Linked DNA regions of Homo sapiens: region 1 is linked to region 2. The links come from fine-mapping of genetic effects on gene expression. A gene starts in region 2. The other region holds a variant in brackets. All regions are shown on one strand. Distances are from middle to middle. Region 1 overlaps ZFR2 (zinc finger RNA binding protein 2). Region 2 holds the start of ZFR2 (zinc finger RNA binding protein 2).

Evidence for each region. PIP is the estimated chance that this variant, and not a neighbour inherited with it, causes the effect.
Region 1: its variant is fine-mapped to the expression of ZFR2 in testis (GTEx, PIP above 0.99).

Annotation. Positions count from the first base shown.
Region 1 is chr19:3,824,515-3,832,514 of GRCh38, forward strand. It overlaps ZFR2 (zinc finger RNA binding protein 2), which reads right to left. Exons shown (of 19, transcript NM_015174.2): 4 at 7,146-7,364; 5 at 6,789-7,042; 6 at 2,957-3,139; 7 at 716-893. Among named protein-coding and RNA genes, the nearest start is that of ZFR2, 41 kb to the right of the region's middle. RefSeq lists an enhancer at 6,739-7,328. The variant A/G (reference allele first, on the strand shown) is at 3,921.
Region 2 is chr19:3,865,541-3,877,869 of GRCh38, forward strand. It overlaps ZFR2 (zinc finger RNA binding protein 2), which reads right to left and starts at 3,498. Exons shown (of 19, transcript NM_015174.2): 1 at 3,425-3,498. The coding sequence starts at 3,477. It also overlaps the pseudogene FTLP5. RefSeq lists an enhancer at 5,585-6,084 and silencers at 11,411-11,705, 11,468-11,668.

The DNA of each region.
Region 1 (8,000 bases), 43 kb before region 2:
GAGCCCAATTTGTTCACCGTGAGCACCAGGGCATGCAGGGGAGCACAGTGGAGGTGGCAGCCCAGGGAACCCTGTAGGTGCAGGGTGAGGGCTTCCAGAGAACCCCAGCACCCGGCACCAGGCCAGATTCTACCAGAAGAGGCCGGGCGCAGTGGCTTACGCCTGTGATCCCAGCACTTTGGAATGCCGAGGCTGGTGGATCACTTGAGGTCAGGAGTTCGAGACCAGCCTGGCCAACATGGTGAAACCCTGTCTCTACGAAAAATACAAAAATTAGCCGGGCGTGGTGGTGCATGCCTATAGTCCCAGCTACTCAGGAGGCTGAGGCAGGAGAATCGCTTGAACCCAGGAGGCAGAGGTTGCAGTGAGCTGAGATCGCACCACTGCACTCCAGCCTGGAGGACAGAGCGAGGCTCCATCTCAAACCAAAACAAAACAAAAAAACTCTACAGGAAGAAATGGCATTACCATTTTATTGGTTCTGCCAGCACTCTCTGGAAATGGTCTCAAAGGGTCTCCAAGGTTCAGGGCGGTGTGGGCCAGTGGGAGGCCATCTTGCTCTGCAGGAATAAGGGAGAGACGGCACCAGCCAGCCCCTCACCACCCCCCGGGAAGACATGACGAAAATCGACTGGATGGTAGATTTTCTCACGAAACTTTCACTAGGCGGCCAGGGCTCTGGTGGGTACACGAACACGCATACAGACACACGTACCCTCGCATAAGGCCTTCGAGGCCACGGGTCTCTTGGCCAGCGCTGGCCTGCTCGAGGCACACACGCTGGGGCCAGTGGGGGACGTGGGCTTGGCCTCTGCCCCGGGGGGGCTCTCTGTGGCCAGTGCAGGCTCGAGGGTGGGAATGGGCTTCCCCAGTTTGGCGTGCAGCTTGAAGACCTGCAACAGACAGAGCCGGGCTCCCGCGTGAGGGCCGCTCCCAGCCTGATGGCCTTTTTCAAGAGGCAGGAAGGGCCTCCACGGGCGTGCAGCGCGAGTGTGGGCTGGCCGGTCCCAGGGACCCCCCTCTCTTCTCTCCTCCTGCTCTCTGGATAACACCCACTCCAGAAGGCCCTTCCCAGGTGGCCTCCTGCCTTGCACACGTGCTTGTGACTTCTCTAGCACGGTGACACTCCTCTAGTGTGTGAGCACGTGGCTCACCGGCTCACACGGACGCTCTTCCTCCTCCTCCACCACGTGGGCTGCCAGGTGGGGCCGTTTCTCAGCCTCCCAAGCCCCAGCCTAGTGCTCCCTGACTGCCCGGGACTCAGCATGTGTGGATGGATGGTGGGTGTGCACGTGTCCCTGGACGGACACCCACGTTCTGCACGCACGTGTGCACATGGTCACGTCCGTATTCTGGCCGTGCCCCATTCTCAGCACCTCTAGGTACAAGGTGTTTCTGGCAAAGGTTCCGTGTGCACAGGGCCACTGTGTGTGTGCTGGGGACCATCTCAGACACACTTCCCAGCTCTGTCTCTGACACGCTGTACCCTGGTACAAGACCTGCCCTGTACCCCCCAACCCCACAACGGGCAGCAGGGCCTGCCTGACCCCCAGACTGAGCCCCAGCCTGTGGGGGTGACACCTGCAGCTCTGCCCCACCGGCCCCTAGCTCTCCGGTCCCCAGGCCAAGTCTCCTTCCCCCGTTTCTCTGCCCCGCTCCTTCCCTCCTCCATGCCTCCCTGCTCATTCCTCTTTCCCCTGTGGGTTCACACGGGCCCTCAGCAAGCTGTCCTGAGCCGAGCCAGGGAATGAGGCCCTGGATGAGCCTCCAGGCAGCTGGGGGAGAGAAGCCAGGTCCTCAGCCAGGCCTCTCAGGGTGGCTCAGCCTGACAGCCCGGGCTACAGCACAAGCCAGCTGTCCCCTCCCTGCTCTCAGGTGGGGACTCCATCCCCTCCCCGCCGAACATGACGAAACCCAGGCCTCTTTTTTTTTTCTTTTGGCGACAGAGCCTTGCTCTGTCGCCCAGGCTGGAGTGCGGTGGCGAGATCTCAGCTCACTGCAACCTCCACCTACCGGGTTCAAGCAATTCTCCTGCCTTAGCCTCCTGAGTAGCTGAGATTACAGGCACGCACCCACCACGCCCGGCTAATTTTTGTATTTTTCAGTAGAGACGGGGTTTCACCATGTTGGCCAGGCTGGTCTCAGGCTCCCAACCTCATGCGATCCACTCGCCTCGGCCTCCCAAAGTGCCGGGATTACAGGCGTGAGGCACCACGCCCGGCCTGACCCAGACCTTACTAAGGCCTCAGGAGAACAGTGATACTACAGCAGGGAGTGTGAAGAGCAAGACCTCAAAGGGAACACAGCATTGGGTCTCATCACAGGGCAAGCCCTGTCTGTCACCACGCCCGAATGCCAAGCTTTCTTGGAAGTCCGGGTGTGAGTGTCTCGGCCACTTCATGTTTTTGTGCAATGAGCAGGAACCCTTTTTATAAGTGGAAAGGAGTCCCCGCACGGTGGCTCACGCCTGTAATCCCGGCACTTTGGGAGGCTGAGGCGGGCAGATCACTTGAGGTCAGGAGTTCGAGACCAGCCTGGCCAACATGGTGAAACCCCGTCTCTACTGAAAACACAAAAATTAGCCGGGTGCGGTGGCGGATGCCTGTGATCCCAGCTACTCAGGAGGCTGAGGCATGAGAATTGCTTGAACCCAGGAGGCAGAGGTTGCAGTGAGCCGAGATTGTGCCCCTGCATCCCAGCCTGGGGAACAGGACGAGACTTTGTCCCCATTAAAAAAAATAATAAAATGAAAACTAAAATAAAATAACTGGAAAGGAGTTTGGATCCTTGAAGATGAGGACGCATGGGCCTGGGCGGCTGGCCCTTGGGGCGCGCTCCACTTGGGGAGGCTTCTCCCAGCTCCCTCTGATCTCCCCAGGTACCTCTGTGGGTCCCAAGTGCTGACCTGGGGGCCTTCTCCCCAGGGTGGCAGAGCCTGGGCCGGGCGGGGCCGTACCTTCTGGTGCTTGGATCCCCGGATGTGGGCCGCGTAGGCGTCCGCCCCGGTGCAGGACACGGCGCACAGGTCGCAATGCAGCTGCGCCTGCACCCCGCGCGGGCTCCCGTTGGGCTGCACGCCTGTCTTCTGGGCCGCCTCCTTCTTTCTGTGCTTCTGCCCTCCCAGATGTTCCCGGTAGGTCTGCGGCAAGGGGTGAGAGGCAGCCTGGGCGGGGGTTTGCACACTGGCCACTGTCCCCTCCCCTGCAGGCCCCCGGCTTAGCGCGAGGGAACTCGGTGGTAACAGAGGCCCGCTGTCCCCAACCCTCCATTCCCTGGTGCCATGGAGGTTCCAGTGTCCCTTTATTTTTCTTATTTTTATTTTTTGAGATGGAGTCTCGCTCTGTTGCCCAGGCTGGAGTGCAGTGGCACGATCTCAGCTCACTGCAACCTCTGCCTCCTGGGTTCAAGTGATTCTCCCGCCTCAGCCTCCTAAGTACCTGGGACTACAGGCGGGTGCCACCACACCCGGCTAATTTTTGTATTTTTAGTAGAGACGGGGTTTCACTCTGTTGGCCAAGCTGGTCTCGAACTCCTGACCTCAAGTATCTACCTGCTTTGGCCTCCCAAAGTGCTGGGATGACAGGAGCGCACCACCGCGCCCAGCCTATCTTCTTACTATAGACGTCTCAAATTTTTTTTTTTTTTTTCGAGACAGGGTCTCACTCTGTCACCCAGGCTGGAGTGCAGTGGCGTGATCTCAGCTCACTGCAACCTCCACCTCCTGGGTTCAAGCGATTCTCCCGCCTCAGCCTCCCAAGTAGCTGGGACTACAGGTGCACACCACCACGCGTAGCTAATTCAAGTGTCCCTTTATGAAGCCCACGTAACAAACCCACAGGCTCAGACTGCTAGACATAAGGTTTCTTCCTTCTTCTGGAATTCAAGGAGTTTCTTTGGAAAGCATGCTCCATGCATCACAC[A/G]TTCCTTTTGGGGGCTGCTGTATACAGAAAATTCTGACTTCAGAATTCAACGTCAGAAACCAAGCAAGGGCACCTGCTGCCCGAAGGATAGTCACGTACACTTCCATCTTAGGAAACTGCTAATAGACACAGGGGCTCCACCCGGGGGAAGCCACCGTGAGTCACAGGCCTACGCATCCGGTACTACTGGGCCCAAAATATCTGATTGCGTCTGGGGAAGCGACAGCCAAGCCCTTAGGCAGAATCCTGGGTGTGCTGCTTGAAATCCTCAAATGAAGCCGGCCACAGACAAGACGTGGCAGGAGGGCCACGAAACCAACACGCCCTGACAATGCCAAGAATAAACATTCTGCAGACTGAAAAATGCCCCTGAAAATACTGGGGCACAGTGGGCACTGCCCCGTCACCTGCAGGCCACCGGCTTGGCACACAAGAACTCAGAGACATTGTCTGGTTTTAGGGAAGAAAAATAGGACGTGGGAGAGGCATACATTTTACTGTATGCATGCTCTCTGGAACTTAGGAATCTTTTTTTTTTTTTTTTTAAGACGGAGTCTTGCTCTGTTGCCCAGGCTGGAGTGCAGTGGCGCGATCTCAGCTCACTGCAGCCGCCGCCTCCCAGGTTCACGCCATTCTCCTGCCTCAGCCTCCCAAGTAGCTGGGACTACAGGCGTCTGCCACCACGCCTGGCTAATTTTTGTATTTTTAGTAGAGACGGGGTTTCACCATGTTGGCCAGGCTGGTGTTGAACTCCTGACCTCAGGCGATCCTCCCACCTCAGCCTCCCAAAGTGCTGGGATTACAGGTGTGAGCTACCACGCCCAGCCTGGAATTTAGCAGTCTTGAACCTCATAAATATATTACCTAAGCAATAGAATAAATACGCATCCCTGTGCACACATACTAACTTAGAAAGAGAGACTGCCTGTGGAATAGAGAAGACTCTGGAAGGATACACACCAAGATGCTACCGCTAAATCATTTCAGGGTGGAGGGATTATGGGGGACTATAGGTAGGTTTGTGTGTGTGTGTGTGTGTGTGTGTGTTTTGTTGTTGTTGTTGTTGTTGGTTTTTGGGGGGTTTTGTTTTTTTGTGGACAAAGGGTCTCGCCCTGTCGCCCAGGCTGGGGTGCAGTAGCGTGATCATAGCTCACTGCAGCCTTGGACTCCTGGGCTCAAACGATCCTCCCACCTCAGCCTTCAAAGTGGCCAGGACTATAGGTGCGTACCACCATGCCCAGCTAATTTTTAAATTTTTTTTAGAGACAGGGTTTCACCCATGTTGCCCAGGCTGGTCTCGAACTCCTGGGCTCAAGCGATCTACCGGCTTCGGCCTCCCAAGGTGCTGGGATTACAGGCATGAGGCACTGCACCCAGCCAGTAGGCTGTCTTTGTGCACTTTTGGCGTATACTGCAGTAATTAGCCACGTGGGCTTCAACACATCTTGGTTTGATTTCTGCCTGGGTCACTAAAACTGACTCTGAGTTCCTCAAAGTACTGACCCTTTCTGAGCCTCTGGGATTTTATCTGCCACACAGAGATGGTAGCCACAAGGCAGATATAAGGATTAAATAACCCACACGGGCCTGGCGCAGGGACTCAGCTTGTCATCCTGGCACTATGGGAGGCTGAGGCAGAAGAATTCCTTGAGCTTAGGAGTTCGAGACCAGCCTGGGCAACATAGTGAGACCCTGTATCTACAAAAAAATTTTTTTTTAAATAGCCAGGCATGGTGGTGTGCACCTGTAATCCCAGCTACTCAGGAGGCTGAGGTAGGAGGATCGCTTGGGCCCAGGAGTTCGAGACTGGACCTGGGCGACATAGTGAGACCCCATCTCTATTGAAAATTTAAAAAATTAGCTGGGCATGGTGGTTCGTACCTGTCTCAGCTACTTGGAAGGCTGAGGGGAGGATCACTTGAACCCAGGAGGTGGAGGCTGTAGCGAGCTGTGATTGTACCACTGCACCCTAGCCTGAGCAACAGAGCGAGACTTTGTCTCCAAAAGAAACTCAAACTTCTATGCGAGCACTCTGCAAAGAAGGCCGGGGTCTCTCCCAGCATGAGACACAGTGGAGAGCTGCTGGAGGAAAGAGTCTGAGACAGGGAAAGGGTGATCTGGGGCGGGAGGGGTCCTGAGCAGGGACCGGCCCCCCATCCCCAGCTGGGTCAGGGGTCCTGATAACGGTGTCCTGAGCCTTCTCACACCTCTCCAGAGTCTGCGATTGCAGACTCCGTGTCTCTCCGCGGTCCAGAGCTTCCTTTCAGAGTATTAAAAACAAAAGAAGATCAGGGTGTGTGTTTTGCAAAGACAGAGCTCTAGGGTCTAATTATCTTTCCAGGAATTGAGCCCACGATCTCAGCTGGGTGATTTGCAAGCTTTAAAATCTCAAGCTCGTGTGTTTGGTAAAGATTCTTTCACGTATGTCCCAAACAAGCACTGCCAAGCACAAGCACGCATGCACACACACACACGGGCGCATGCACACACATACACATGCAGGCATACATGCGCACACATACACACACGCACACACATGCACACACATACACACACGCTTGCACACACAGGCACATGCAGGCACACATGCGCACACATACGTGCAAGCACACATACATGCACACTCACGTTTGCACACACATATGCACACATATACACATGCATAAACACACGCACACATACACACTCACACTTGCACACACACACAAGCGCTTGCACACACAGGCCATGCATACAACATGCAAGTTAACACCAGACCTTCTTTCAGCAGGCAGCGACCCTGACCACCCCACCGGCGCCCACATTCGGGTTCAGACGTTGGGGACAGAGAGGTCCCTGGGGCCTGCCCATGGCAGGAGGGCGACTGACCTGGGGGCCAGCGCAGCTGATCTTGCAGATGTCGCAGTAGTGAAGCTGGAGCTGCCTGGGCCCCGCCTTGGGTCTCGGCAGCTTGCTGGGAAGCGGTGGCTTCGAGTCGGCCCTGGGGCTGCTTCCTGAGCCTGCAGGCGCGGGCGGCGGGGGCAGCTGCTGCGGGGGTCCCGGGGGAGGCGGGGGCTGCGCTGGAGGATAGAAAGGGCTGGCAGCGGAGTACACCGACGCGTCATAGTTCGGGTAGCTTGGTGCTGAGCAGCAGAGAAAACAATGAGTCGGGGGGAGATGCTGATTCCACTGAGTTGAAGTGGGGACCGACGGGCAGACCACCTGGGCAAGGAACGCTGGTCTTACCCGTGTAGGCGGTGCAGGTGGGGTTGTAGGAGGGCGGGGGGTAGGAGGTCACGATGGAAGCTGACGACTCGGGCTGGACGCCTGTCGCCGTGGGGTAGGTGTATCCCGAGGACAAGGTGCTCGCTGGCTGTCCGGACTCCACTATGGGCGCCTGCTGTGGGGGCTGAGCGTGGCTGTGACTGCCATGGGGGCTGGGCTGCCCGCAGGCTTCTTGGGTCCCTAGGGGACAGGGACAGGCCCTCTGCAGAGCCAACCCCCACCCCACTGTCCCTCACCTGCAGATGGGCCCTGGACTCAACTGGCTGGAACACGCTAGATGCTTAAGCCAGGACCAGAGGCCAGAGCCTTGGGCCAGGTGCTGGCAGCGACTCGCAGGTTACCTTGTGCCCACCTCTCCTTTCCAGAGCCCGGCTTCTCTCTCCTGCCATGGGGGAGGAGGGCTGTGGGTGCCCTAGACAAGCTCCTCTGCATCTCCAGCTCCATCACCCACAGAGCTCACCTCCTGCCACCCCGGGAAAGCTTCCTTGGAAAAAATGTTAGCTGCATTTTCAGTCCTCACTTTCCTTCATTCATAGGCCCACACCTGGCAGAGATCCCAGGGCCCATCTGAGCAGCCAGCTCTGAGGCTCACCTGCAAATCTAGGATGTTTTTATTATCATTATTATTATTTTTTTTTTTTTGAGTCGGAGTCTTGCTTTGTCACCAGGTTGGAATGCAGTGGCATGATCTCGGCTCACTGCAACCTCCACCTTCCAGGTTCAAGTGATTCTCCTGCCTCAGCCTCCCGAATAGCTGGGATTACAAGCATGCGCCACCCTGCCCGGCTAATTTTTCTATTTTTAGTAGAGATGGGG
Region 2 (12,329 bases):
GGGGGAAAGGTCTCATCATTTTGCCCAGGCTAATGTCAAACTCCTGGGCTCAAGTGATCCTCCTGTCTTGGCCTTCGAAAGTGCTGGAGCGACAGGCATGAGCCACCATGCCTGGCCTGGTTATCAATTTTATAAGCTAAGAAAACCTACCCAAAACTCCTAAAAAATGAATTGCTGCCTTTGTTTTGGCAATTCTTGAAACAGGTGTTGTAAATACTGCTGTCCAAATGCTGCCATAAAATTGGTACACAAAATCTGGTATCTCATCAGTTTTCTCATGGCAGGTTATATAAACCATAGGTACTTTTTTGTTTGTTTGAGACAGTCTCACCCTGTCGCCCAGGCTGGAGTGCAGTAACGTGATGATCTCAGCTCACAGCAACCTCCACCTCCCGCGTTCAAGAGATTCTCCTGCCTCAGCCTCCCGAGTAACTGGGATTACAGGCGCGCGACACCACGCCCGGCTAATTTTTGTATTTTTAGGAGAGACAGGGTTTCACCATGTTGGCCAGGCTGGTCTCGAACTCCTGACCTCAAGCGATCCGCTTGCCTCGGCCTCCCAAAGTGCTGGGTTTACAGGCTGAGTCACCGCGCCTGGCCAAAACATACGTACTTTAAAAGCAGCCAAAGTTTCCAAACAAAAGTCATTTCCCACAAGAAAGAATGTCTAGTTAACCTAAAGTCATTCAAATAATGCCTATCATCTTGTTTCAAGGTTTTGTGAGAATGAAATGTATTTTGCTATGATTCCTGTGTTATTTTTAGTTAATAGCTTACTATTTTCTTAAGGAAGAACACATTCTCTCTGCGGCAATTCTAAGGACGGACTAACTCAACAACTCAACACCGGGTTGCGTGTATACTGTATCACCTAAGCCATCAGAACACAGAAGGTAGCTGTGCTAAAATGGGTTGCGTGTATACTGTATCACCTAAGCCATCAGAACACAGAAGGTAGCTGTGCTAAAATGTATAAGCACGTTAATTCAAATCAATGACAGAAGCCTCTACTGAAGCTTAGCAATCACCTATTTGAACAACATAAACATTCAATTTCTCCTCTGGAAGGTAATTTTAATAGCAAGCATAATATTCAAGTGATTTTCCACGTCTGATGGAAGAATACAATGGAGAAAGAAAGAAGAGAAAGAGAAAAGAAGGAAGAGCTAGCAGGCAGAGGGGTGGAGTGTGTCCAGAAGTTTGTACTAGCCTGGATCGCTAGCCAAGTCCAGCCGCTTTAACTGAGCCCTGGCAATCAAAACACCACTGAGGATGAAGGAAGCAAAAGAAAAGATCAAATAAAAATTAAATGCTCCATTCTGGGAAATCAGCAGGTCATAGATTCTTTCCCTAATAGGAAATCCATTACTAGTCAAATACTCCACCAGAGAAACCACTCCGAGTGCAGGAAACAGATGCACTCCTCATTCCCACAGCCCTGGTTTCCAAGCCCTGGGTGGTTTCTCTTTGTGATTCCATTAGAAAGGGCACAGCAATATCACAGCACTGGTGGAAGGGTCGGCACTGCCGCTCCACCGCGGGAAGCTGAAACACCAGCCTGGATCTCTCTTCCATGTGCTGAAATGCAGTAGGAACACCGCGGGGGGCAAAGACCCCCCTGAGCTCAGCAGAGGCCCCTCTATGAGGTGCCCAAGGGGTGGTTTGTATCTGTGGGGGCTCAGCAGGGACTGTGAGAAACAAGGTTATAGCAAGCTACCAGCTGGAAACTAACACAAGGGTGACACGCGGAAATGATCAACTGTTGGGGGGGGAATCTGGTCCCCTCAGAGATGCCAGCCCTGGCTCCCGGACTGGGACTCCAGTCTTGGGGGCAGATGGACGGGCTGAAGATAGCAGAGATGCTCCGAGGAGCAGGCCTGGGAGAACAGTGTAGAGTGTGTGTTTGTACACTTGGGGCACAAACTTACCCCGTGTGTGTCCCTACCCTCTGAGCCCTTCTGCCCCTGGCCAGTTCCCAGTGTGTCCCCATCCCCTGCCATCTCTCCTCCAGGATCCTTTCTCTCCCTCCCCTCCCAAACGACCACATATTTAAGACCTAGAAAAGGATCTTAAATATCACAACACTCAGGGCCCTTTCTCCCTCCTCACTGTCCCAGCAGGGTCCCAGTTCCCTGGAAACCCAGGTGCCCACCCTCTTATTTGACCTCAGGACCTCCTCCCACATAATACTGGCTTCCCGCCAAGTCTCTGTCCCCCTTCCCCAGTCAGGCCTCAGTTCCCCACCAACCTCGGTTTCCGCCCCTCCCTGGGGTAACCTCCCAGGTCTCTGTCTTCTCTCCTCCACCCCACATCAGGGGTCAGGTTCCCACCCCTACTCCACACCCCACCCCAGGTCTCTGCCCCTGCCTGCTAGGTACCCTCCCAGGTCTCTGCCTTCTCTCCTACCCCCACCATCAGGGGTCAGTGCCCTCCACACTCGAATGTTGCTGCCCCCTGCCCAGTCGGGAAACTTCCCAGGTCTCTGCCTTCTCCTCCTCCAGCAATCGGGGATTAACGCCCCTCTGCCCTTCCCCTCCTCCTGCCCAGCCAGACACCCTCCCAGGTCTGAATTCTCTCCCCCTACCAGCAATCGGGGTCAGCTCCGCTCTAGCTCTCCCCCTGTCCAGCCAGACACCCTCCCAGGTTTCTGTCTTCTCTCTTACCCCCATCAGGGGCCAATTCCTCACCCCTCGACTGTGGCTTCCTCCTGCCCAGCCAGGAACCCTCGCTGATCTCTGTTTTCTCCTCCCCTACAAGTAATCGGGGGTCAGCTACCCTCTGTCCATCCCCCTGCCCGGCCAGGCACCCTCCCAGGTCTGTGTCTTCTCCTCCCCCCGCAATCGGGGGTCAATGCCCCTCTGCCCTTCCCCTCCTCCTGCCCAGCCAGACACCCTCCTAGGTCTGTGTCTTCTCTTCCCCTACCAGCAATCAGGGGTCAGCTCCCCTCTGCCCATCCCCACCCACTCCCCGGCCAGGCACCTCCCAGGTCTCCTCCCTGCATTGGGTCAGTTCCGTCCCCTCCCCTCCTCGGTCAGACCACCCACCCCCCGCCCGGGTCTGTCCCCTCTCGCTGCCCTCCTCGTGGCGCCCCCATCAGGGGCTGACCCCCCCGACCCCGCACAGGCCCAGGCCCAAACCCAGGCCCCCTCCCACTTCAGGAGCCCCCTCCCGCTCCCGCCGACAGACACCGTTGGCTGCAGAGACGTCTCAGCCGGAGCCCCGGAGCCCGCATCCCGCCCGGTGCCTAACCTGAGGCCGCCCCGCCTGCTTCTCCCGGCGCCGCGGCTTCCCTCAGGCCGGGGTTCCAGGTTGGGGCTGGGACTGGGGCCGGGCCGGGCGCACGCGGCGGGAGAAGGGGTAGGCGGGGTCCCGGCCAGGCTGCAGGGGCCGGGACTGGCGGGGGCTGGCGCGGCGGGGCAGTTACCTGTACTGCGGGCCGCCGCCCTGCGCGAAGTCGAAATACTGACTCGTCGCCATCTTGGCGTCTTCCCCGAGCCTGGCGGACCCGCGACGTCACCCGCCCCGCCCCCGAGCCGCGTGCCGCTCGCGCCTGGCCACGCGCCCCAAGCTCCGCCCCCTGCGCGAAGCCCTCACCTTCTCGCTTCCTTCTCTTAGGCTAGGGAGACACCGCCCCGCGACCACACCTGCCCCGAGGCCCCGCCTCCTACGCAGAGCCCCGCCCTCCTCTTAACCACTCAAATGTGGAGGTCTCTGCTCAAGCCCCGCCCATGCTAGAAGCCCTGCCTCTTTCTCGGAGCCCCACATTCCCTTTAACCACTCAGATGTGGTGGTATCTGATCAAGTCCCGCCCATGCTACAAGCCCCGCCTCTTACTCAGAGCCCTGCCTTCCCTTTACCCACTCAGATGTGATCTCTGCTCAACCCCCACCCATGCCACAAGCCCCGCCTTTTTTTGGAACCGTACCTTCCCTTTAACCATTCAGGTGTGGAGGTCTCTGCTCAAGCCCCACCCATGCCACAAGCCCCGCCTCTTTCTCGGAGCCCCGCCTTCCCTTTACCTGCTCAGATATGGTCTCTGCACAAGCCCTACCTCTGTCTCCGAGCCCCACCTTCTCTTTAACCACTCAGATGTGGAGGTCTCTGCTCAAGCCCCACCACCACCACAGCCAGCTAATTTTTAAATTTTTTGTAGAGACAGTGTCTTGCTATGTTGCCCAGGCTGATGTTGAACTCCTGGCCTCAAATAATCTTGCCTTGGCCTCCAAAAGTGCTGGGATTACAGACGTGAGCCACTGCATCTAGCCTCAGAATGACTCTTCAGAAGGCCCCCATGGTCTCTGCCTCCTGTGTTCACAACGTGATATAAATAAATGATAGGCCGGGCACAGTGGCTCACGTCTGTAATCCCAACATTTTGAGAGGCGGAGGCAGGAGGATCTTGAGCCCTAGGACTTTGAGACTAGCCTGGGCAACATAGCAAGACCCTGTTTCTACAATTTTTTTTTAATTAGCTGGTCATGGTGGTACATGCCTGTGGTCCCAGCTACTCAGGAGGCTAAGGTGGGAGGATCACTTGAGCCTGGGCTGTCAAGGCTGCAGTGATCTGTGACTGTACCACTGCACTCCAGAGTGAGACCCTGTCTCAAAAAAGAGAAAAGAAAGAAAGGGCTGGGCGTGGTGGCTCACGCCTGTAATCCCAGCACTTTGGGAAGGCGAGGTGGGCAGCTCACCCAAGGTCAGGAGTTCAAGAGCAGCCTAGCCAACATGGCAAAACCCTGTCTCTACTAAAAATACAAAAAAAAAAATTAGCCAGGCGTGGTGGGGCACACCTGTAATCCCAGCTACTCGGGAGGCTGAGGCAGGAGAATTACCTAACCCAGGAGGTGGAGGATGCAGCGAGCCGAGATCACACCACTGTACTCCAGCCTGGGCAACAGAGCAATACACCGTCTCAAAAAAATAAAAAAATAAAAAATAAAAAAATAAATAAATAAATAATAAAAGAGGAGAGGGAGAGGAGCAGGGAGGGAGGGAAGGGAAGGAAAGAAGAGAGAGAGAGAGAGAGAGAGAAAGAATTGAATGAATAAACAAATAAATGGAGGCAAACAGACAAATCTCTTATGCAGAAGAATTCCTAATTTGTGTAGCTACACTGCGCTTAAGGAGATAGAGAGTAACTCTACACCTCTTGAGTGTGGGTTGTGCATAGTGACTTCCTTCCCAAGACTGCAGCCTGGAAGGAGGGGGAGGGAGAGTCACTTGACAGTATTGAAACCTGACAAGCAGCAGCGTGTTTGGCGGTCCCGCGGATCCGTCTCTTGCTTCCACAGTGTTTGGATGGAACAGATCCGGGAACTCACTTCCAGCCTCCGACCACCCGCTGATTTCCTCTCTTCTTGCAACCTCCAGGAGCATCGGCTCAGCCATCTCCTGCTTCTCGGACCAACCAACGCCGTTTTTTTGGTTAGCTCCTTCTTGCCGACCAACCATGAGCTCCCAGATTCGTCAGAATTATTCCACCGCGGTGGAGGCAGCCGTCAACCGCCTGGTCAGTTTGCACCTGCGGGCCTCCTACACCTCCTCCCTCTGCGGGTTTTTTTTTTTTTTTTTTTGCTTGTTTTTTTTTTGAGACGGAGTCTGGCTCTGTCGCCCAGGCTGGAGTGCAGTGGTGCGATCTCTGCTCACTGCAAGCTCCGCCTCCTAGGTTCACGCCATTCTCCCGCCTCAGCCTCCCGAGTAGCTGGGACTACAGGCGCCCACCACCACGCCTGGCTAATTTTTTTGTATTTTTAGTAGAGACGGGGTTTCACCGTGTTAGCCAGGATGGTCTCGATCTCCCGACCTCATGATCCGCCTGCCTCGGCCTCCCAAAGTGCTGGGATTACAGGCGTGAGCCATCGTCTGCGCTTCTATTTCGATCACCAAGATGTGGCTCCGGAATGCGGGGCTTACTTCTTCCATGAATTGGCCAAGGAGAAGCGCAAGGGTGTTGAGCGTCTCCTGAAGATGCAAAACCAGCGTGGTGGCCCTGCTGTCTTCCAGGACATCCTGAAGCCAGGTCAAGATGAGTGGGGTAAAACCCTGGAAGCCATGGAAGCCGCCATGGCCCCGGGGAAAAATCTCAACCAGAGTCTTTTGGATCTTCATGCACTGGGTTCCGCCCCTACAGACCCCCATCTCTGTGACTTCCTGGAGAGTCACTTCCGAGATGAGGAAGTGGGCTGCACGCGGTGGCTCACACCTGTAATCCCTGCACTTTGGGAGACCGAGGCAGGCAGATCACCTGAGGTCAGGAGTTTGAGACCAGCCTGGCCAACATGGCGAAACTCCAGTTCTTCTAAAAATACAAAAATTAGCCGGGCGTGGTGAGCTACTCAAGAGGCTGAGGCATGAGAATCGCTTGAACCCAAGAGGCAGGGGATGCAGTGAGCCGAGATCACGCTACTGCACTCCAGCCTGGGGAATAGAGTGAGGCTCTCCAAAAAAAAAAGAAGAAGAAGATGGGTGACCACCTGACCAACCTCCACAGGCTGGCCGGCCCGGAAGCTGGGGGGCCCAGAGGCTGGGCTGCATGAGTATCTCTTAGAAAAGCCGACTCTCAAACACGGCTAGGAACCTACTGAGCCCAGCGACTTCTGAAGGGCCCCACGTAAAGTAACGGGGCTTCTGCCTAAGCCTTTCCCTCCATTCACTAGGCAGCTTTTTTGTTTATTTGTTTGTTGGTTTGTTTTGTTTTGTTTTGAGAAGGAATCTCGCTCTGTCGCTGGAGTGCAATAGCACAATTTCAGCTCACTGCAACCTCCGCCTCCCAGGCTTTGGCGATCCTCCAACCTCAGCCTCCCGAGTAGCTGGGATTACTGGCATGCGCCACCACACCCGGCTAATTTTTGTATTTTTAGTAGAGACGGGGTTTCACCATGTTGGCCAGGCTGGTATCAAACTCCTGAGCTCAGGTGATCCACCCGCCTCGGTCTCCCAAAGTGCTGGGATTATAGGCGTGAGCCACTGCGCCTGGCTTTGTTATAGCACCCTGAACAGACTAAGACGCCCACTTTGAACACTAGATTCCAAAAAGCATCATAGAAGTCTTGGGCTTCTGTTAGATAGGCATGGTGGCAGGTGCCTGTGGTCCCAGCTACTCAGGAGGCTGAGGCGGGAGGATCACTTGAGCCCAGGAGGCAGAGGTTACAGTGAGCCAAGATCTCACCACTGCACTCCAGCCTGGGTGACAGAGCCAGACCCCCGTCTCAAAACAAACAAACAAACAAAAAACATAAAAGGGGCCTGGCGCAGTGGCTCATGCCTGTAATCCCAGCACTTTGGGAGGCTGAGGCGGGCGGATCACCTGAGGTCACGAGTTCAAGACGAGCCTGGTCAACATGGTGAAACCCTGTCTCTACTAAAAAATACAAAAATTAGCCAGGCAAGGTGGCGGGTGACTGTAGTCCCAGCTACTCGGGAGGCCAAGGCAGGAGAATTGCTTGAACCTGGGAGGCAGATGTTGCAGTGAGCCGAGATCGCGCCACTGCACTCCAGCCCAGGTGACGGAGTGAGACTCAGTCTCAAAACAAAACAAAACAAACAAAAAAGGAAGTCTTGGGTCTTGGGCATCTATGAACTTTTGCTTTGCTGAAGTCTTTCAAATCAGTTGGCTTTTTGACAATGGAGTATTACGAGAGCATTAAAGTAAGAAGTGCATTCAGCAGATACAGGGCTACTAATTCTTGGACAGGCTCCATGGAGAGCCCAGGGTGCTGAGGGAAGCCACATTTGGTGATTTAGCGGATGGCACTCTTCCATCTGTAACTCCATGACCATGTGTGGCCACCAGGAATGGTCTGGTGGGTCTGGCCAGTGCAGCTCTCCCTGCCATGCCCTGGCTAAAGTCCAACAAGGTAATTAATTGCACACGGCCTCTCTCCAAGTCCCTGCCGTTCTAATTAGGTAATGAAGGCTGTGTCTCTTTACAAAGGATCTGTTGTAGTGTTTTCTCTGGGTTGCATTTTTTCTATTATTTACTGCAAGGATTGTGCTAAATGCTTTACATGCAAAATGTGATCTAGTTCCCACAACAGCCTTCAGAAGGCCGGGCATGGTGGCTTACACCTGTAATCCCAGCACTTTGGGAGGCCGAGGTTGGGAGTTCAAGACCAGCCTGGCTAACATAGTGAAACCCTGTCTCTATTAAAAATACAAAAAAATTAGCTGGGCGTGGTGGTAGTTGCCTATAATCCCAGCTACTCAGGAGGCTGAGGCAGGAGAACTGCTTGAACCTGGAGGGCAGAGGTTGCAGTGAGTTGAGATCACACCACTGCACTCCAGCCTGGGTGAAAGAGTGAAACTCTGTCTCAAAACAAAAAAAAAACCAAAAAAAAAAAAAACAGCCTTCAGAAGTAGAAACAGGCATAGTGGCTCATACCAGTAACCCCAGCTACTTCGGAGGCCAAGGCAGGAGGATTGCTTGAGCCCAGGAGTTTGAGACCAGTCTGGGCAACATAGGGAGACCCCATCTCTACAAAATACAAAAATTAGCTGGATGTGGTTGTGTGTGCCTGTAGTCCTAGCCACTTAGGAGGCTGAGGTGGGAGGATCGCTTGAGCCCAGGAGGTGGAGGCTGCAGTGAGCCATAAGTGTACCACTGCATTCCAGTCTGGGTGACACAGCAAGACCCAGTCTAAAAAAAAAGAAAGAAAGAAAAGAAAAGAAAAAAGAGGCCAGGCGTGGTGGCTCACACCTATAATCCCAGCACTTTGGGAGGCCAAGGCAGGCAGATCATGAGGTCAGGAGATGGAGACCATCCTGGCTAACACAGTGAAACCCCGTCTCTACTAAAAATACAAAAAAATTAGCAAGGCATGGTGGCACCTGTAGTCCCAGCTACTCGGGAGGCTGAGGCAGAAGAATGGCATGAACCCGGGAGGCGGAGCTTGCAGTGAGCCGAGATTGCACCACTGCACTCCAGCCTGGGCGACACAGCAAGACTCCGTCCCCCAAAAAAAAAAAAAAAAGAAGTAGACACAGTCGATTCTCATTAATTCTGTTCTCTAAAGTCAATACCAAGCTCACTAATACTGACCATCGCTCCTAAGAGAAACACGAGGTTGAGTTCCTGTGAGCCTCTAGTCACAGTGTTTGCATCAACCATCAATACACGACCTCGGCCAGTGCAGTGGCTCACGCCTGTAATCCCAGCACTTTGAGAGGATGAGGAGGGCGGATCAACTGAGGTCAGGAGTTCGAGACCCGCCTGACCAACATCTCTACTAAAAATACAAAATTCGCCAGGAGTGGTGGTGCATGCCTGTAATCTCAGCTACTCAGGAGGCTGAGGCAGGAGAATCACTTTAACCCAGGACGTGGAGGTTGCAGTGAGCTGAGATTGCGTCATTGCACTCCAACCTGGGCAATAAGAGCGAAACTCCGTCTCAAAAAAAAAAAAAAAGAAAAAAAAGAAAGTTCAAATGTCTAGCCAACCGGGATTAGTTCAGATTGTGTGACCCGACCCCGGCCAATGGGGAAAGGGCACAGGGGCAGGACTTGCCTCAGGAATAAAGGCTCTCATGCCCCTTTGTTCAGGTGCGCTCTCATGACGACTGGACAAAGAAAAACACCTCTCTGCGCAGAAGTAAAATTGCTTTGCTAAAATCCCTTTGTTTGTGTATTCAATCTTCTTAGGATTTTGAGCGTTATTCCCAACAAATAGACATGGTTGATTCATTCACATTGAACTCATAGCACTTTTACTCATATCTGAAGTTCTCTAACACACTGCTTTTCTTCTTGGAGCTTTCTTTTTTTTTTTTTTTGAGATGGAGTCTTGCTCTGTTGCCCAGGCCAGACTGAAGTGGCGCGATCTTGGCTCACTGCAAGCTCCGCCTCCCGGGTTCACGCCATTCTCCTGCCTCAGCCTCCCGAGTAGCTGGGACCACAGGCGCCCGCCACCACGCCCGGCTAATTTTTTGTATTTTTAGTAGAGACGGGGTATTGCCGTGTTAGCCAGGCTGGTCTCGATGTCCTGACCTTGTGATCCGCCCACCTCAGCCTCCCAAAGTGCTGGGATTACAGGCGTGAGCCACCGCGCCCGGCCTCTCCTTGGAGCTTTCTTGCACTTAGGAAGACTAGACAGTGCTTCAGCATGAAGCTTGGAAGTCATTTTATTTTATGGATTTATTTATTTATTTTTGAGACAGAGTCTTGCTCTTTCACCCAGGCTGGAGTGCAGTGGCGCAGTCTCAGCTCACTGCAACCTCCGCCTCCCTGGTTCAAGCAATTCTCCTGCCTCAGCCTCCTGAATAGCTGGGATTGCAGGCGCGTGCCACCACGCCCGGCTAATTTTTGTATTTTTAGTACAGACGGGGTTTCACCATGTTGGCCAGGCTGGTCTTGAACTTCTGACCTCCTGACCACCCACTTTGGCCTCCCAAAGTGCTGGGATTATACGCGTGAGCCACATTGCCTGGCCTGTATCAAGCATTCTTTTAGGGCAGAATTTTTCTTGCTCAGTACCGTGGACATTGGGACCAGATTATTCTCTGGGGCGGAGCCATCCTGGGCACTGCAGGGTGCTGAGCAGCGTCCCTGGCCCCCATCCACTCCATAACAGGAGTATCCCCCAGTCGCAACAAACACAAGTGTCCCCAGAAATCGTCCGGTGTCCGCTGCGGGCAGGATCACCACCCCCCCAGGTGACAGCCACTGGTGTAGGGGTTAAAGATACAGGGTGACAGGCCGGGATTACACCTGTAATCCCAGCACTGAGCCCAGCACTCCTGGCCTCAAGTGATCCACCCGCCTCAGACTCCCAAAGTGCTGGGATTACAGGTGTGAGCCACTGCACCCAGCCCACAAGAAAATTTTCTACAAGCTCACCTTCAGAAAAGTTTCAAGATCCTACAAAATCTAGCCCTTTTGTGCATTTCCAAACGAATTCCTCAGGGATGGCCGGCAGAATAATGGCCCCTAAAGATATCCACACCCACTGGGTGTGGTATGTTTGCCTGGGAAAAATAGTGAGACCCCATCTCTACAAAAAATTGTCAAATTAACCAAGTGTGATGGCATACACCTGTAGTCCCAGCTGCCAGGGAGGCTGAGATAGGAGGATCACTTGAGCCCAGGAGGTTGAGGCTGCAGTGAGCCATGATCACACCCCCGCACTCCAGCCTGGGCTACAGAGCAAGAACCTGTCTCAAAAAAATTAAATTAAATTAAAATTTTTCCATTTTAAAATTAAAATAAAACGAAATGAAAACAGACAGAGGCCAGCTGCAGTGGCTCACACCTGTGATCACAGCACTTTGGGAGGCCAAGGTAAGCGGATCACCTGAGGTCAGGAGTTTGAGACCAGCCTGGCCAACATGGTGAAACCCCGTCTCTACTAAAAATACAAAAATTAGCCTGGCGTGGTGGTGGGTGCCTGTAATCCCAGCTACTCGGGAGGCTGAGGCAGAAAAATCGCCTGAACCTGGGAGGTAGAGGTTGCAGTGAGCCGAGATCGCACCAGCCTGGGTGACAGAGCAAGCCTCTGTCTCAAAGGGAAAAAAAAACAGGGAACCAAGCTTAGGTCACACGCTGTGGCTCCTCGGTGGTGGCTGTAGCACCATGGACAGCTCCCAGGCTTTGGTGGACTGGGGAGAAGCTGTTGCTCTTTAAATGCCAGTCTGGGCAGGCCTGTCTGTCCAGAATATGCCTTCCTCCCTCTTTTTTATTCATCTAACTCCACTCACTCCTCAGGGGTCTCACTCATGCAGTCGCCACCTCTGTGCCCCACCAGGAAACCTCCCCAACGGTCCCCCAACCTGCACCACTCCAAAGATGTCTCTAGATCAGCCCAGACTCTGTTGTCCACCTGTTTCTCTCAACTGAATGGGAATTATTTATTTTTTTTTTTTTTGAGATGGAGTCTCACTCTGTCACCCCACCTGGAATGCAGTGGCTCAATCTGGGCTCACTGCAACCTCCACCTCCCGGGTTCAAGCGATTCTCCTGCCTCAGTCTCCCGAGTAGCTGGAATTACAGGCGCCCACCGCCACGTCTGACCAATTTTTGTATTTTTAGTAGAGGCGGGGTTTCACCATGTTGTCCAGGCTGGTCTCAAACCCCCAACCTCAAGTTATCTGCCCGCCTCAGCCTCCCAAAGTGCTGAGATTACAGGTGTGAGCGGCCTCCCAAAGTGCTGGGATTACATGCCTGGCCTCAACTGAATGGTCATTCTAAGAGAATTCCCAATCCTGCACACAAAAACAGCATAAATTAACTGAATTAGGGAAGCCACGCCTCTGCCAGCCGTGAGCTGGGAAGAAGCAGATACCTCAGAGGCAGGGAGCGCAGGCGGGTGATGATGAGAGGGGCCACAGCCGCAGCCCCAC